2 separate regions of the Homo sapiens genome follow, and region 2 is linked to region 1. The links come from fine-mapping of genetic effects on gene expression. A gene starts in region 1. The other region holds a variant in brackets. All regions are shown on one strand. Distances are between the middles of the regions.

Region 1 (2,500 bases):
CTTAATTCACGTTACTTGATAACTTCTTCTGGAAAAAAAAAATTAGGGGAGGTGGGGAAGAAACCTCCTTCTTTCTTCTCCACGAATCCGACCGACGCTACTTGCTTTGCAACAGCATCGCCCTTCCCCGGCCCCCTCCCGCTTCCCAGCACTTTCCCCCTTTAAGAACACAGACCAACCAAAATGATTTAACTTGAGCAGATGACAGAAGGAAAATAAAACACGTTAAGAGAATACGGTCTGATTTGGGATGGCAAAAAAAAAAAAAAAAGAGGAGGGGGTTGTTTATTTTGATAAGAAACGGAATCGGCACAGACCTGAACAGAAGCTGCAGAGCAGGAGAAATTGTTTTCTTTCCCTCACACAGAGTCCCCCTCTCTCTCTCCCTTTCTCTCTCTCACACGCGCGCGCGCACACACACACACACACTCGCACACACACGGCGTCACCCGCGCACACGCACACGCAGAGCCTCTCAGCGGCTCTCTGCAGTTCTCAGGAAATGAATGGGGGGCAACCCGGGGAACTGTTGTACTTGCAAATGACTTACCCGGATCACATGATGCGCTAAATGTAGGGTGGGCCGGTGGGTGGAGGCTGCCGAGTTGCGAGCCCCGGTCTAGTGTGGGGAGCCTCGCCAGGCCCGCATCGAATTACCCCGGGGCCCAGCCGAGGGGGTTGCAGGACGCCGCTTCTCCTCCCTCGCAGCCCGCAGCTCAGGAAACCGGAGAGGCGCTTGGGGTGGGGTGGGGTGGGGTGCTGTGAGGGGGGGGGCCGAAAACAAGAAACCCCCAAACAAAAGAGCTCCGGGTCCTCCTCCCCAGAAACAAAGCCCCGCCGCTGCCGGCGAGCCCCGGGGTGGGGCCGAGGGCGGGGGCGGCGGCGGGGAGGGGCTCGCTCAGCAGGCGCTAAGTCGCTTTATTGCCATAAAATGGGGCCCCCGAGCCGCTCCGCCCGAGGATTAGGAGGCGGGCTCTGAGTGTGATGGTTGAAATCCCCTGTGGGAAACTAACCCCTCCCCGCTCGCAGAGGTAGAAGGCAACACCCACTGCCCGGCCCTCGCCTCCCCGCCCGGACCGCCGGGCTGGGTCCGCGGCGCCTCCACCCCGCCCCACCCCGCCCCACCCCTGCCCCCGCCCTCCGGCCCCGGGCCTCGGCAGCGCTTCCCTTTCACCTGCACCACTTTGCTGCGGCACCCCAAATAACCCACACATGGCCCTGGGAGCTCGGGGAGTCGTCGGCCGAGGGGGCCCGCGGGGGCTTGCGGCGGGAGGGACCCCTGGAGAGCAACTCGCTGGGCAAGGACTCGCGCCGAGCCGCGAGAAAGTCTCCTCTTTTGTGTCAGAGCGCGCCAGACAGGCTTAGGAGAATTCGGGGACCCAAAAAGCGTGCAGCCCGCTTGGGCCCCCACCCCTCGCCGCACCCGCCCGGGTGGGGGCGCGCAGTGGAGGGAGGGGGCTGTCGCCCGGGTCGTCCCCGCGGCTCGCCCGCCAGCGAACTTGGAAAGGTGTGGGCGGAGCCGGCCGGGACTGTGGGGCAGCTCGCGGGGACCGCCCCTGGGCGCCGGGCATCGCCCGCGCCGGGCAACAATGGGGTCAGGCAGGGGCAGCCCCGCGGGCGGTGCCCCCCGCGCGCCGGTGGGGCGGGCGGAGGGCCGGGCGCGGCAGGCAGGGGAGTCATTGTTTGGGTTCCGGAGCGACGCACGTTGCGGGCGAAGCGGGGGCGCCCCTTTTCCCTGCGCTTCACCTTGGCGGGATGAATGGGGGCGAGGCGGAGATGCGCGCCTGGCCTCGCCACCCCAGCGAAGGGGCCCCTGCCTGCGCCAGTTCTGTGGGAAAGCACGCAAACTTGGAGGACTGGGGCAGAGGAAGCGGGATCTGCAGACCCCCGCGGGGCCCGGGGGCGGCGGGGAAGGGAGTCCAGCTCCACTGCCCCACGCCCAGAGCGGAGCCCCAAGAAGCGGACGGCCCGGAGCCGAGTCCTTGACGCTCTCCCCGGCAGCCCCTCCCTCCCCGCCTCCGCGCCCCGGGGAGCGGATCCGCGGGATTGTGGGGCGGGAGAGGGAGGAGGCGGCCGGGCGGCCCTGCAGTTCCCGCGGCGGCTCGGAGGGCGCGGGGTCAGCGCCGAGCCGGAGGGTCGGCGGGGGCGGGGAGCAGACGGGGCGGAAGCGGCCGGGCGGGCGGGGCGCGCGGCGGACGGAGGCGGGAGGCTGTGGGCCCGCCTCCTCACCATCCTAGGTGAGCGCGGCGCTCCGGGCACGACAGTATTCCCCTGCCCCGCGCCCCCGGCCCGGCCCGCCCCGCGTGGGAAATCGCCAGGGCTGTGGGAAGGCCGGGAAGGGGAAGTTTGTGTGCAGAGAGAAAGCTTTGCTGTACTGTGGCGTGGAGTGGGGTGGGAAGAGAAACAAGGGAGAGGCCGAGAAACAGGAAATGAGAACGAAGGCACGAATGTGAGCCAGGGCCAGCTGGGCTCCCCATCGGTGTGGCGGTTTCCAGCCACT
Region 2 (3,017 bases), 70 kb after region 1:
TGACTTAAAGTTATTTAAACGTTGAAAATGACAAGATAGAACTAGTGATTTATTATTAAACTCTCAGTTTTCTGGCTTGGATGAATGGGTTAGATGGGGTTCCATTAAGAAAGTCAAGAGATATAAAAGAGGCAATTAGTTTTGGAATTTATATCTGGGCATATTTAGTTTGAAGAATGTGTGGGGCATCTAAGAGATGATATCTCTTTGCAAATGCTGCTACAAATCTGGAGCTGAGGGTAGTGATCTGGCTGGAGATTAGACTTGGGTGTCATTACACATAGATTGCAGATCTCAATCTGTTGCTTGAAAACCTCTGCTTTCTCTAACCTGGAATTAGGCTAGATGCAAGAAGATGATGGCAAATTGAGCTTTGGAGGGAACACTATTCCTTTGTAGAGATATTTCATCTCATCAGATTTGTAAATTAATTACATGAAGAGTAAAAAATCAAGCATCAATACCTTCATAAATTTTTTAAATAAGACTATTATGGTCCACTATGATTCTTAATGGAATCTAAGACAATCTGGCTACTAGGATAAGGCAAAAAAAGGTAATGCTTATGAATTACAGCTGCCATTGAGATGTATCATGGTGAAAAAGCAGGACACATTATGATGCTATGCAATGTGAAAATCTGTACTGAACTTGGTGGAGGTTGGCATGAAGTGACTCTTCTTGGCAAAGAGGGTTTAAAATGTCCTTCCCCTAGCCACAGGGCACAAGAAATTAATTATGTCAGGGAAACACAGCTGCCAAGGAAAATGCAGATCCAGTGCTCAGGTTACAGAGACAGAGAGCTACAGTACCACCCAGCCATTCCCATTGACCAATATAGGAGGCAGTTTGCCAATTTGTAAGACAGCTTTGTAAATATGTGGTCCCCCAAGACTCTGTTTTGAACAGTATGTAAGCGGAGACTCAGAAGCAAAGCCTGAATGATTGGATGAAGAAAGACCTTAAAAAAAGATACAAATACTACACAGACATCTGTGTTTTTTGAAAACTTAAGCTAGAAACTCCACAAAAGCACAAAGATGTTGTCAGAAGTAAGTCGAGATTTTGCAGTGCCTTCCTCTCTTCCATCACCACCACCATCATCACCAATGTAGAATGGGCTTTGAAATGATACAACTCTGGTTTTTAAATTCCAGTTTTTTATTTACTATGTGTCTGACTTTGGACAAGTTCTTAAACTTCATCTGTAGGATGAGGATGTTGCTTAGCATTGTTGCACAATGGAAATAATGTGTGCAAAGTACCTGGCCCAGGGAAGGTTTTGAAATGTTTGCAATTTTTTCTTTTTTCAAATTTGTATAAATGTAAGGGTTACAAGTGCAGTTTTGTTACAGGGATATATTTTGTAATGGGAAAGTTTGGGCTTTTGATGTAACCATCACCCCAATAATATACATTAGACTCATTGTTTACAATTATTAATCCCAAAAACCTTTGTTAATAAATGCAAAAATACCTGTAAGAAATCCTCTAGGTTCCCTTATAAAATTATTCTTCTCAATTTATTTTTCCTTAAGTTTGGAAATCTGTCAACTCTAAAATCTTTTCTATGAAGATCATTTAGGTTTTTAGGAGTCTTGCCCAATTATTTGAGGAGGATTTATTGCAGTTTTGAGAGATACATAGAATGGCTTGCCTTCTTCTCTAAATTGTAAGCAAATTTCAGATCTAAAAACATGTTGAAGATTCTATTTTATGTATGAACCCGGCTATTACTTGAATGATTCAGAGACCTCAGTTTCTGCATGGCATCTGAAGGGACTTCAGGAATTCGAGGTTGGTGGATGATTGTACCATCATCACTGC[G/A]TATTTGGGATTTTTGTGCTATTATACCGAGGGTTGTATAGCATCTTCCTAGCAACTTCTTTCTAGTTTATTGCCACTATTGCAAATGTCAGATCTCAAGACTTTTGAGTGTTGGGCTTTTTATGAAGCCAGTAGCCAGTCTAAAATAAATTACTAGACATATGCTGATAGCAGAAAATGACCATAGAGTTATTTTCCCATTTACTCTTTATTGTTATATTTAAAAAGTGAACTTCTGTGAACACTGACATGGTTGCCATGTATTTTTTTTGGTTCTTGCTTGTGGCTTGCTCTGTGAATAGCCTAAAAACTATTTCACTAGTGGTCATCTACGTTAGCTAGAGGGTAAATTCCCTAAGGACATAGACTGATAGCAAATTTGCTCAGCGTGGGGAGAAGAGAAATCACTAAATACATTTTGTTGAATTAACCCAACTTAGTGAATTCATAATAAAACAAATGGCAACATTTTATAGCACCAGGAAATATTGTCAGATGAAGTTCTTTCTGACAAAATCTGGGGTGATATGAAAAGTAACTTATTCTCCCAAGACAACTGGCATCTTTTCTCTGAGACTCACTAGGCTTTGAGGATATGCTAAGATGGAGTTTGAGGTTTGGGAGAGGCTCCTCTTGGCACATAGAAACTGAAGTGCATGTGTGACTTTCTTCCTACTCAAGTGTATTGAGTAAAGAAAAATATTATCTAAAAATTGATGTTGGCTCACTCTGACTTAGCAAACACAATCTTGGATTTGTATGGACACGTAAAGCTTTGGTAGCCACATATAGTTGATGACTGACTTCCTTTGGCCTGCCACCTGACTTTCTTGACCCTGACGTAGACACAGAGGAAGGACTAGGCTGTCTTTATATTATTTAAAAGAAAACTGAAGAGTCAACCGAAACAAAGCAGCTGGAGCAGAAACTCATTACTGGGTAGAGAGGTTGAGGACACACTTAGCTGAGTTTGAAATCTACAACAAAGTTGAAGGCTCAGGGTGGGCTGCAAAAAGATAACTCTCTCCTCCAGGTTGTAGAGATTTTTATAGTAGGGAGAGAAAATTGATGAATATGAACCCTGTCAGCAGTAATTAACAGCTCCCAAATGTGGTAAACTGGGCTTCCAGTTGCCTTGGAGGTAATGTCTGACACAGAGATGACAAGAGATGCAAGTTTATAAATATCAA

Which allele goes with the higher level. Alleles are on the strand shown, and positions count from the first base shown. SD is a standard deviation of normalised expression in the study named.
As copies of A replace G in region 2, the expression in fibroblasts of the gene that starts at base 983 in region 1 goes up (large effect, 1.5 SD a copy in GTEx).

The links. PIP is the estimated chance that this variant, and not a neighbour inherited with it, causes the effect.
Region 2: its variant is fine-mapped to the expression of KLF12 in fibroblasts (GTEx, PIP above 0.99).

Annotation. Positions count from the first base shown.
Region 1 is chr13:74,133,422-74,135,921 of GRCh38, forward strand. KLF12 (KLF transcription factor 12) reads right to left here and starts at 983. Exons shown (of 8, transcript NM_001400136.1): 1 at 551-983. RefSeq lists a silencer at 730-2,479.
Region 2 is chr13:74,202,988-74,206,004 of GRCh38, forward strand. It overlaps a transcript of KLF12 not described here. Among named protein-coding and RNA genes, the nearest start is that of LINC00402, 27 kb to the right of the region's middle. The variant G/A (reference allele first, on the strand shown) is at 1,828.